Regions from separate parts of the Homo sapiens genome. Here all the other regions are reported to be linked to region 2. The links are microRNA targets in miRTarBase. Many come from high-throughput screens and were not tested one by one. Region 2 holds a microRNA gene; each other region holds the end of a gene's coding sequence.
The links. The annotated mature microRNA hsa-miR-4693-3p reads UGAGAGUGGAAUUCACAGUAUUU and lies in region 2 at 1,734-1,756, shown strand. An mRNA with a match to its seed (bases 2 to 7 or 8) in the 3' UTR can be bound and repressed. Matches are read on the target gene's strand: a 7mer-m8 pairs with bases 2 to 8, a 7mer-A1 pairs with bases 2 to 7 and ends in A, and an 8mer does both.

Region 1: the mRNA of PCBD1 is a reported target of hsa-miR-4693-3p. Seed matches in the 3' UTR shown: 7mer-m8 at 2,377-2,383.
Region 3: the mRNA of CHMP4B is a reported target of hsa-miR-4693-3p. Seed matches in the 3' UTR shown: 7mer-A1 at 360-366 and 7mer-m8 at 396-402.
Region 4: the mRNA of CCDC88C is a reported target of hsa-miR-4693-3p. Seed matches in the 3' UTR shown: 7mer-A1 at 527-533 and 7mer-m8 at 1,496-1,502.

The regions. Positions count from the first base shown.
Region 1 is chr10:70,881,372-70,884,482 of GRCh38, forward strand. It overlaps PCBD1 (pterin-4 alpha-carbinolamine dehydratase 1), which reads right to left. Exons shown (of 4, transcript NM_000281.4): 4 at 2,139-2,677. The coding sequence ends at 2,579. Among named protein-coding and RNA genes, the nearest start is that of PCBD1, 5.6 kb to the right of the region's middle.
Region 2 is chr11:103,848,218-103,851,328 of GRCh38, forward strand. It overlaps MIR4693 (microRNA 4693), which reads left to right and starts at 1,689; the gene lies at 1,689-1,763. It overlaps LOC102723862 (a long non-coding RNA gene), which reads right to left and starts at 1,334. Exons shown (of 4, transcript XR_001748346.2): 1 at 1,197-1,334.
Region 3 is chr20:33,853,314-33,856,313 of GRCh38, forward strand. It overlaps CHMP4B (charged multivesicular body protein 4B), which reads left to right. Exons shown (of 5, transcript NM_176812.5): 5 at 183-1,053. The coding sequence ends at 247. Among named protein-coding and RNA genes, the nearest start is that of CHMP4B, 43 kb to the left of the region's middle. RefSeq lists an enhancer at 1-454.
Region 4 is chr14:91,270,011-91,273,100 of GRCh38, reverse strand. It overlaps CCDC88C (coiled-coil domain containing 88C), which reads left to right. Exons shown (of 30, transcript NM_001080414.4): 30 at 1-1,778. The coding sequence ends at 476. It also overlaps a transcript of GPR68 not described here. Among named protein-coding and RNA genes, the nearest start is that of GPR68, 27 kb to the right of the region's middle.

The DNA of each region.
Region 1 (3,111 bases), not on the chromosome of region 2:
CCCGAGTAGCTGGGACCACAGGTGTGTGCCACCATGCCTGGCTAATTTTTCTGTATATTCTGTAGAGACAGAGTTTCTCTACATTGCCCAGCCTAGTCTCTAACTCCTGAGCTCAAATGATCCTCCCGCCTTGGCCTCCCAAAGTGTTGGAAATACAGGCATGAGCTGTCCCTGCATCGGGTGAACATTTTTCAACCCTTGACCCATGAAAATAAGCAGAGGCAGGAATGTAACATAACAGCATAGTCCATACCTCCGCATCTGGCGTCTTCTGTCCTTCAGTCCTCCAGTCATCAGATCAAAGCACACTTGGAAAATTTTAAGTCAGAAGTGGAGCAGATGGGAGACCACTGTCTGAATCTCGTTTGCCATCAATATAGGTATTGATAATCCTTTACTAGCATATATGCTAGGAACGGGGTCCTGCTAATCCCTCTTGTGAACAATACGCTTATTTCTCAACCTCCAGCCTCTGCCCCTTTCCTGGCCTTTGCTGGGGGACCAACTCATTCAGACTGAGTTGTGACATGGCTAGATTCCTGTTCCAAGTGACCCCGGCATTTACAAGTCAGCTTAGTACTTGAGTTAGGAGACACAGGTGAGAACTATTAGGAAGAAGGCTTCCCAGTCTCTGCATAGTGACATATGTGAGGTAAAATTTGTGTGGCATTCTCGTGGGGGTAGAGATGAGGCTGCTCTTAGTGCCCCCTTCTTCATGACAGCGTGGGAATATTCTGTCCTAGAGAGTTCCTGGCTGGGGAACTGACTGTGCAAACCATCTCTTAACTGCTCCAGTAATAAATAGCCTGCCAGGTCCTAAGCTGCCTGTGTCTTCTCTCTTGTGGAGTAAACCAGGCAAGCCCTAAGAACTTTGCTAAGATTTTAAGAAACTGAAGAGACCATCAGGATTTGGGATCTGCCATATCTGATATGATAGGCCTGTGTATTATGATTCTCCAGAGAAACAGAACCAATACACACAAAGAGATTTCTTATAAGGAATTGGCTCATGTGATTATGGAGGCTGACAAGTCCCAAGATCTGTAGTTGGCAAGCTGGAGAACCAGGAAAGCAGATGGTATTGTTGCACACCGGAGGCTTGTAGCCTTGAGACCTAAGGAGAGTGGATGTTTCAGTTTAAGTCCGAAAGCAGGAAAAGACCAATGTCCCACCTCAAGGCAGTCAGGCAGGAGGACTTCCCTTTTATTTGGAAGAGGGTCAGCCCTTTTTAGCCCTTTTTTTCTGTACAGGCCTTCACCTGGTTGAATGAGGCCACCCATGTTAGGGAAGACAGTCGGCTTTACTCAGTCTACTGATTCAAATGTTATCCTCATTCAGAAACACCCTCACAGACACACCCGGAATGTTTGACCAAATGCCTGGGCACCCCATGGCCCAATCAAGTTGACACCTAACATTAGCCATCACAGCCAGGAAGAAAATATAGGTTGAGTATCCCTTATCTGAAAGGTGTGAGACCAGAAGTGTTTCAGATTTTGGATTTTGGAATATTTGCATTATACTGACAAGTTGAGCATCTCTAATCTGAAAATCAGAAATCTAAAATGATCCAATGAGTATTTCCTTTGGGCATCATGTTGGCATTCAAAAAGTTTCAGATTTTGGATTTCCAATTTTCAAATTAGGGATGTTCAACCTGTAATATGGCCCCAGACTGCCTTTCTAGACATAGGTTCCACAATGCATATAATACCTGTGCCCTTCACACCCTTATCTGTGTTCATGGTGTTCTCTCAGCCATCTCTGCCTCCCAAGAATCCTACCCAGGTCTTCAAGGCATAACTCAAAGCCTCCAGATTTGCCCTTTTCACCATTAATCACTTGCGTTCCCTTTAGCTCATTTCTTATCCTGCCACCTAGCATTAATTCACTCTAGTAATAGTTAATTAGTACTAGTTAATTGGTAATTGGTAATAGTTAATTGTGTTCCTGTTTGATGATAATCAAATGGTATCCCCTAGATGATAATGAATCTGAAGGCAAGGTGGTCTGGTCCCTGTCATTTTCCAGTACCTTGAACAGAGGAAGTGCCTAGCACAGAGGAAGTGCTTTCATTTAAATGCCTATTGACTCCAATTTGGATTGACCTGTGGAAAAGAAGTTTCTAGAGCCTGAGACCAAGTGATATAATAGTTTTATTTGAGACATAAAAACACATGTGTTTCTATTACATAGTGTGGGGTTTAGGGTCCTGGTTTCTAAGACAAGACTTTATTTCACCCTGTATCACAGCTTCCTGGGAAATGAATTAGGGAGCAAGAGACGGCCTGGCAAGAAAATCATTATTGTTGCTGGGAAGTTGCAAAGAAAGGGGAGAGTTTATTCAAATTAGTGTAACAGAGCCCCCAGGATGAAGAGAGTGGTGCAGGGAAAAGGTCTAAATTCCTGGTGTTGGTGGGGACACTGGCACATCCCACAGCAAGGACTCAGCCCTCAACGGCGGCGGCTGGGTCTTGGGAGGGGAGTGGTGGGAGGGTAAGGGCTCCTCAGCTCCCTCCCTGGACTCCCAGTTCAGTCACCCCTTCCCCCGGAAGAATTCAAAGAGGAAGGGCAGGGTCTATGTCATGGACACTGCTACTTGTTCGATGAAGCTGGCCAGGTTTATGTCCCGTTCTGAAAGGCCGGCACACTCATGGGTGCTCAGCGTGATGTGGACCTGAAATGAAACCAGAAATTCTGCTTCCACTGACTTCACTTAAGAACAGGAGGGAGTCACTAGCTGCTGGGCTCAGCCCTGCTAGGAGCTCCAGAATAGCAGCTGGCCAGTACGATCTCTCCTGGGGACTCCTTCCTGACATGTCTGTAACAACATCTTCTACATCTCCCCTTTGCTGTCTCTCAAAAATAATCATGACTTCAGCTATAGAATAAAAGCTTAATATCTGAATGTCAAGAGCAACCTAAAAGCTAAAGACAAAACCAAAAACCAATGCCAACTCCTAAACACTATCCATTCATAGACGACCTCTTCCACCCTTACTGTTTTTATAAACAGAGACCAGCAGAGCTTTTGGCACATGGTAGACATTTAATGACTGTTTCTATTCATTAAGCAAATAATTTGATAGGTTGGCTATGTGTCTGTATTTT
Region 2 (3,111 bases):
CTAGTGTTAAAATGTCAATATTATATTATCATAAGTTTTATTACCCTCATCTGATTTTTTGTAAAGTCTCTAATGATTTGACTCCTGAATTGACAATAATCTCTGAAAACTGTCAGAGGCGTTTGAACCAGAGCAACTCCATCTTGAATAGAAGCTGGTTAAATATGGTTGAAACCTACTGGGTTGCATTCCCAGATGGTTAAGGCATTCTAAGTCACAGGATGAGATAGGAGGTCGGCACAAGATAAAGGTCATAAAGACCTTGCTGATAAAACAGATTGCAGTAAAGGAGATGGCTAAAACCCACCAAAACCAAGATGGCAATGAAAGTGTCCTCTGGTCGTCCTCACTGCTACACTCCCACCAGCGTCATGACAGTTTACAAATGCCATGGCAAGTTACCCTATATGGCCTAAAAAGGGAGGGCATCAATAATCCATCCCTTGTTTAGCATATCATCAAGAAATAACCATAAAAATGGGCAACCAGCAGCCGTCGTGGATGCAGTCTATGGAGTAGCCATTCTTTTATTTCTTTACTTTCTTAAGAAACTTGCTTTCACTTTACTCTATGGACTCGCCCTGAACTCTTTCTTGTGAGAGATCCAAGAACCTTCTCTTGGGGTCTGGATCCTGGATTGGGACCCCTTTCCTGTAGCTGAACGGTCACATTACTTTGTTGCTTATTCATATGTTTAAGCATCTTTAAGATCCTCACTGCAGCGAAATAAAGCTCAGAACTTCAAACACTATAAGTATTCCCAGGCCCTTGCTGCTATGTCTTAGATATTTACAGCTTCCCCTGAATTCTTTTTTCTTTATCCTTTGTTTTGGGGAAGGTTGTTTTATGTTTTTCTATTCTCACTTATATTATTTCTCTCCATTTCAGTTTAATATTATTTTTCATTTTTCCTTAATATTCATAATTCAGTTTTCCCCCACACTTGGCACCCTACCCTCTACCCTCTGTCTTCAATTCTTTCCACAATTTTCGCTCCTTCCCTTTTTGCTGTCTCAAGTGAGAACATAGGCACATTTATTTAACCCCACTGGAAATCCTGTGTTTTTGTAGGAAAAGACTTGCTTTCTTGGCAGTGCTAAAAATAAAGTAATTACTGAAGGAATGCATGATGGGGCCAGTTAGTAACCTGATAAATGGAACTTGGATACAAAGCAGAGATGAATAAAAAGACTCACCTGGTCCAGGATACTGGCTTAAAATGAGCCCTGCAGCAAGGCTGACTTGATTATGAGCTCCAAACCAGGAGGCTTTTCTTTCCTCAGTCTAGGAGGCAGGAGTAAGCCTGACAGTGGCAAGAAAGTATCCTCAAGAGTGGGCTAGGGAGGGATGGGGTAAGTTGTGCTGGTAAGGACACCGTGGGAGCAGTGAGCCAGTACATTCCATTCTTACATTTTTTGGCTTTAAAAAACGGAAGGACAGAGCTATATTACTCCATTTCTATTTTGTGAAAAAGTGTAAGCTTAATAATTTTAAAACTCAAGGCTACGTTTGATTTTTCCAAAGCACAATTAAATAAAAAATAGCTCCCTCAGTGGCTCATACCTATAAGAAGCCAAATGGTTTGGATAAAAATACTATTCCCAAGTCACCAGCATCAGCCTGTATAAATAAAATTATTAGGACAGGCAAAGCAATTCAGAGGAAAGAGCATCGCTTGGGGGTAAAATGTTTAAAGAATACTGTGAATTTCACTGTCACAAATTCAAATAAAGTGAGAGTGGAATTCACAGTATTTAAGGAATCAATCCTTGCTGCTTCTGTTTATGAAGCCGAGCTTCAGTTTTCTTGCTCTGACAATGGACACAGTGATTACCTCAAGGGTTGCTGTAGGAGTTAGATGAGATATCTATAATGTAGGAAAGGTGTTTACTACAATGTAACTCATGGATAGGGGCCTATATTGGTTTTCCATTGCTGTGTAACAAATTTCCATAAACTTAGTGGCTTAAAACAACAGACATTTATTATCTTTCATTTCTGTCAGAGGTCCAGGCAACTGAGTGGTTGATATCTCTGTTCAGGGTCTCACGAGGCTGAAATCAAGGTGTCAGTTAGCTGCATTCCCCTCTAGAGACTTGACTAGGGAAGGATTCTTTTCCAAATTCCTTCAAGTTGTTGGTAGAAGTGTTTCTTGCTAGCTTCAATTAGGGATGGATCTCAGCAACTAGTGACCACTCTCAAGTCTTTATTATATGGCCCCTTTTATACTCAAAACCAGCAACAGAGAATTCCCCCTCACATCAAATCCCTCTCACACTTTCAATCTCTATGACTCAGAAACGGGCTCACCTGGCTAGGTCAGACCCACCAGAATATTCTCCATTTTGGCTAGCTCACAGTCGCCTGATGAGCAATGTAATCATAGCAGTGGTATCATACACACAGGTCTGCCTGCACTCAAAGGAGAGTGATTATCAAGGAATGCACACCAGGGGCGGCAGGAATCTGGCAGCTATCTTAGAATTCTGCCTGCCACCATTTCCATTAAGTGATTGTTGTTGTTTGTTACTGAGGCATAGATGAAGTAGCACTTATGCAGGAAAAAAACCACTAGTCAATCAGAATTTCAAGTTGTATGATGAGGTATTCCATAGAAATTAAACATGCGTATAACAGATTCTCATAGGTCAGGACACATGAAAAATTTAAGGAAAGGATGAGGACTCCTTAATTTAGAGGGACTTCTGAAAGGTGACTTAATGATGACCCAACACTATATGTGAAATCATGTTTGGCTTCAAAAGCACTGTGGGCAGAAAAGGAGAAAACGTTTAATCTAGAGTACACAGTTATGGCATTATCTGGAGGGAAGGATAAAGCTACAAAGATTGTTAAAACTAAAATTTGTTGCCAAGGGAGCCATTCGAGCTCTGTCTGGAGATCTTCTAAATGAGAGTAAATTATTCTGTACTTGAGGTGGTTTGGGCACTGTCCTCCCTGAAGCCAATGTAGAGATAAAGTGTTGTTTTCACTCCTTCTAGTCCTGTGATTCTGCGTCTAAGGAGGCAAACCACCTATTGAATCAGTGCTCACCACAGGCTCCATTGCAGCATTGAACTGTGTCTGTGAGAAAGAATAAGGTTAAGTCAG
Region 3 (3,000 bases), not on the chromosome of region 2:
TCCAGAGTTGTATGTTGCAGCTTTTAGGCACCAAGGAGCAGTCTCCCTACAGCCTGGAGAGGAGTCTGGCCACAGGGCAGGGCTGTTTGACAGACACCATGGAGCACAGGCAGCCCTCATTTCCGGCCAGAACATGTTGAACGCACCAGTCATCCTAAATAGCCTTTTCTGTCTTCACACAGCCAAGAAGAAAGAAGAGGAGGACGACGACATGAAGGAATTGGAGAACTGGGCTGGATCCATGTAATGGGGTCCAGCGCTGGCTGGGCCCAGACAGACTGTGGTGGCCTGCGCAGCGAGCAGGCGTGTGCGTGTGTGGGGCAGGCAGGATGTGGTGCAGGCAGGTTCCATCGCTTTCGACTCTCACTCCAAAGCAGTAGGGCCGCGTTGCTGCTCACTCTCTGCATAGCATGGTCTGCACCTGGGAGATGGGCGGGGGGAGGGGGGCGGGCGGGGTGGGAAGTGCCTGCTGTTTATAATGTTGAATTTCTGTAAAATAAACTGTATTTGCAAATCCAACATTGAGCTTCTGGACTACGCTGACTCCACTGCTGAATCCTCAATGGAAAGGGTCGACTGGTTGCAGTTGAAATGACCTGAAATGTAGCCTCTGTCCTTGTAAGTCAGTTGACTTGCCGCACATCTCTTTGTGTACTTGTACGGTACTGGCAGAAAAGTCATTTTTCAAAAGCCATAGGCTTTTCCTTGCCCTTAGCTGTAATAATGCATCTGATTTTGATTTCCTCCAGAGCTGTGTTTCTGTCCATCACCTGTGTATTGGCCCTGTGTTTACCACTCTGGCCCACTCCTCACCCCCTTGCTCCCCTGGTCTTCTGGAGTTTGTGACATTGATTTGAAATGGATGGTGTTCTCTTGAGAGCAAGTGAGATTGTTAGAATTAAGTTCCAACTATACAGTTTTCTAACATAGCTATAAGGTCCTTGTTGCTGTTTGTGATAACTGATAGATAACTCATTGGAAACGTGCATACATTTATATTCAGATGAAATTATGGTTTGCACTGTCTATTAAATATCTCGATTAATTTTCATACTTTGCTGTTGTGTTTAATCTATCATTTGCCTCGGGAGCTGACCCTTTCCAGACCAGCAAGGTGTACAGTGGAGTCTGGAAACATGGAAGACTTAACCATGACATGTGTCAACAGTTTGAACCAAAGAGCAGAGCTTGTCTCACCAGAAGTCTGTTCAAGTCCTAGATTGGCCCTCACCTTGCCTGGGGACTCTCTGGGTACAGTTCAGGGTGAGTTGGTTCTTGGGTACTTCAGGGTCTTCCCTATTTCTTCTCTGCCAGTGTCCATGGGCAGTGCCAGCAGGAGCCTTACTGTTGGAAGCCATGGTGCTCCCATCAGACAAGGCTCATCAGGAACATTGAAGAAATGGCCTTTCCCATGGGGAGGAAGTGTAGGGCACTGACTGAGAATCTAGGACACAGAGGTCACCTCAGGACTGCTGAGACTCAACATATGACTCTGGCCCAGCCCCTTCCACTCTGTCCCCTTTTCTTTGGTCTTGTATCCCCTTGAGAGTGTGATGCATGCTGTGGACCCTCTTCAGAAAGGTGGATCTCTACATATTTATCCTTAATTTTGCATGCAAATTTGCAGTATTGAGAGGACACCCCTGTCCCCCTGTGCTCACTCCCAAACCTTTTAAAGTAAAACCAACCTGAGTTCAAAATGAGACACCATCATTGCTCACTGGGCGCCCTGGGGCAAGTTGCCTACCCTCCCTGGGGCTCCTGTTCTCACCTGGAAAGCAAGGGGATGGGAACAGATCAGTCCTGAGGTCCTGTCTGTGTTGAGCGGCTCATGCCCTGTCCCTCATCCCTCATTGCGGCATCCCAGGGCTGCCACACTTAGAACTGGGAGGGACTTGAAGACAGTGGCTTAAAAATTCCTGACTTGTGTGGAGGTTGGATCTGGCTAGTCTCAGAAGTTCTTTCACCTCAAGACAAATCTAGTGGCAGTGCTTGCTGCCAGCTTCCACCCGCTCAGCCTGCAGCTGGTGTGGCCTCTGGGTATCGCTGGTGTGGGAGACCTAGTGGACTTTCTTTTTTTTTTTTGGAGATGGAGTCTTGCTCTGTCGCCCAGGCTGGAGTGCAGTGGCGCGATCTCGGCTCACTGAAAGCTCTCCTCCCGGATTCACGCCATTCTTCTGCCTCAGCCTCCTGAGTAGCTGGGACAACAGGCGCCCACCACCATGCCTGGCTAATTTTTTCTATTTTTAATAGAGATAGGGTTTCACTATGTTAGTCAGGATGGTCTCGATCTCCTGACCTCATGATCCGCCCACCTCGGCCTCCCAAAGTGCTGGGATTACAGGCGTGAGCCACCGCGCCCGGCCCCCAGTGGACTTTCTTAAGCTCCTCTCATCAGCTGTTACAGGGCGTCTTGCCCTAGGTCTGTGTGAGGGGAACTTGCAGACTCAACCCTCCAGCTCTGGTGAACCCAGAAGCCAGGTCCAGGGCAGGGTCTGTGACTCCTCTGAGCAAGAGCTGCTTATTTCTACCGAGTGTGGGTCTTGTGCCAGGGCCTGTGGAGTACAGTGTTCAGTAATACCCAGCCCCTCTCCTGTTCTCAGGAGGTTCTTGGGGCCAGAGAGAGAAGTTACTGAGTCAGGATTCCTTGGCTACAAGCAACAGAAGCCTCAACCCACTGGTATAAGCAATGGAGACATTTACTTATTTATGAAAACTTAGTCAACAGATATTTATTGAGCACCTACTGTGTGCTAAGTACTGTTCAAGGTGCCAGGAGTACAGGTATCAGAGTCCCTGCCCTCAAGGTGGTTACAGTCTAACAATCTCAGGACAAGAAATCTTGGTGGTGGGGCGAGGGGGTGGTTCTGGATTTGGGGTAGTGGCTGAACCATGTCCTCAAGAACCAGGTTCTTTGCATCCTTCTGCTCTGGCACCCTGCACACATAGAGGCTTTTTCTTTTCTTTTTTTTTTTTTTGAGACAGGGTCTCACTTTGTCA
Region 4 (3,090 bases), not on the chromosome of region 2:
GTCAGGGCCCAGGTCCCCGCAGCCGGCCGCTGGACACGAGGCGCTTCTCCCTGGCTCCCCCAAAGGAGGAGAGGCTGGCCCCCCTGCATCAGTCTGCCACAGCCCCCGCCATTGCCACTGCAGGTGCTGGTGCTGCTGCTGCTGGCAGTGGCAGCAACTCCCAGCTCCTGCACTTCTCACCTGCTGCAGCCCCGGCTGCCAGGACCAAGCCCAAGGCGCCCCCACGCTCAGGGGAGGTGGCCACCATCACCCCTGTCCGGGCAGGGCTCAGCCTCTCAGAGGGAGACGGGGTCCCGGGGCAGGGCTGCAGTGAGGGGCTTCCGGCCAAGAGCCCAGGTCGGTCTCCCGATTTGGCTCCCCACCTCGGCCGGGCCCTGGAGGACTGCAGTCGAGGGAGCGTCTCAAAGAGCAGTCCGGCCTCCCCGGAGCCCGGCGGGGATCCGCAGACCGTGTGGTATGAGTACGGCTGTGTGTGACTGTCTCGTGGTTGAGCTCGCAAACCTGAAAACTACTGACGCGCCTTCCGACTCTCACGGCCTTTTCTCTTGCTTGCCTGCGGTGCCAGGAGAGGGTTTGGAATGAGGAAAGGGGTTCCCACGCATTTCTGCTGTTTGTTCTGTGAATGGAAACACTGTGCCAAGCCCCAAGAGGATTACGCTTCCAGGTGTGTAACGTGTTTTCTGTGTCTGCCGCTTCCAGCAGCTGATATCTTTGGAACAAATAATCCACGTCAGCATGGGGACCAATTAGGATGCAATGACAAACTGACTTCCCCCAAAGCAGACACTACTCCAGTATGTCCCAGTAGAACACTCATTTGCAATGTGTTGAGCTCCGTTAAGCACACACACACTCACACAACAGGCTTACGAGGCTCAGGCCTGGCGGGTCAGAAAGCCCACTCCCTCTCCCAAGGCCACTGGATCCCAGGAGAAGCCCAGACTGGCGATACTACAAAGGTCTCCAGGGCCTGGCAGACCCCAGAGTCAGGCCTGCTGTTAAAAAGTGAGAGTGCTGCTGTTCCATTCCTGGGGTCCCAAGCACTTCCCTTTACCCCAGGACCCAGGGCAGCCTGCAGGGCAGCTGGCGGTGGCCTTGGCCATTTGCCCCCAGCCTCCAGCTGGCTCCTGAGCTCTGCACCAGGGGGTTTGGGGACCACACAGGCACCTGCCTTCCTAGATTTCCCTGGCTCACTTTTCTGCAAACACTGGATCTGCCAGGCCTGGGGATTGGGGGGCAGGAAAGAGGCCCCCATCCAGCCCCCTCCAGGCCAGTGTGCACAGTGCACCGAGGGGTCATCCGCACAGAGCGAGGTGCAAGCTCGATGTGTAACCTGGCTGCGGCACCCGACATCCCCGGTCTCGGGGTGTTGATTTATTTCTGAATAACTTTTTGGGTATAGAAACCAATTTTTTTTAATATATGACATGTATATGTACACACTCATGTGAAATATGTATACTTTGGGGGGATCTATTTATGTTCCAGTGGGAGTCACTCTCTTCTGTCGGGAATCTTATCTGCTGCTTTGTGTCTTTGGTCAGATTCCTGACAATTTAGTTTCCTGTTGTAAAGGTGCTTTTCCTGGGGTGAACTAAACCTATTGATTTTTTTTTTTTAAGATTTTTTTTTCCTTTTGATTTAATATACTGAGAAAGAAATGGGAGACTTTTGAATGTTAACAAGATCCATTTTAGGAGTGTTTGGGGTTGTGTATTAAATAGCCATTCATTCTGGAACTCAAGGACAGGACTGTAATAAAATGGAATGGAACCGAAGTGCGTTCTGGCTTTCCTCACTGCACATTGTTAGCATCGGGTGGGCCCCTGGGGACTTGGGGCTCCCTGCGCCCCTCCTTATGCACCCCTCCCTCTGCTCCCCTTCCTCTGTGCCCCTGCACCCCTCCCTCTGCGCCCCTCCACCCCTCCCTCTGCGCCCCTCCCTGTGCCCCTCCCTCTGCACCCCTACCCCTGCGCCCCTCCACCCCCCTGCGCCCCTCCACCCCCCTGCGCCCCTCCACCCCCCCTCTGCGCCCCTCCCTCTGCACCCCTCCCTCTGCACCGCTCCCTCTGTGCCCCTCCCTCTGCGCCCCTCCACCCCTCCCTCTGCGCCCCTCCCTCTGCGCCCCTCCACCCCTCCCTCTGTGCCCCTCCCTCTGCACCCCTCCCCCTGCACCCCTCCCTCTGCATGCCGGCGACCCTTCCTCCACAGTTGGAATCCACCACTTTCCTTGCCACTAGGTGGGGGAAGCTGTTACACGTGCAACCAGAGACAGATGTGAAGGACAAAGATTTCCTGTACGGTGACAGCTTTCCACCCCTCCTCAGGTGTGTTTAAGTTGGCATCAATTGAATCCTATTTTATTTGTTTTTCTAATGGGTCACCACCACCACAGGGGGCATGCAATGGGCTGGAGACCAGTCTGGGCAACATAGCAAGACATTGTCTACAAAAGATAGAAAAATTAGCCAGGCGTGGTGGTGTATACCTGCAGTCCCAGCTACTCGGGAGGCTGAAGACAGAGGATCCCTTAAGCCCAGGGATGTTGAGGCTGCAGTGAGCAGTGATGGTGCCACTGCACTCTAGCCTGGGAGACAGAGTGAGGCCCTGTCTCAAACAAAAAATAAAATAGCGGGGTATGGTGGTTTGCACCTGTAGTCCCAGCCACTATGGAGGCTGAGGCGGGAGGATCACTTGAGCCCCAGCAGTCGAGGCTTCAGTGAACCAGGACTTGTGCCTCTGCACTCCAGCCTGGGCGACACAGCAAGACCCCATCTCAAAAATAATTGAAGAACCCCATTTTGCTATGGCGTTCATCTCATGTCGTGACAGGAGCTCAGCCTGAAGGGGCTCCTTATGATTTTCCCAAGGCTACTCAACCAGTAAATGCTGGATCTGGAATTTGGACCTTAGGGGCCGAAGATACTGAAATCGGATGCATGGTGGAGAGGAGGAAGAGAGGGAAGGAGGAGGCATGAAAATGGCCATGCCTGACCAAGGTTCTTCTGATGTTTTTCTGTCCAGCTGCTGCCTCAGTGTCTCCTTCCTTCTCACCAAGCCTATTTTTTGGCTCTCTCCTCTCACCTCCTT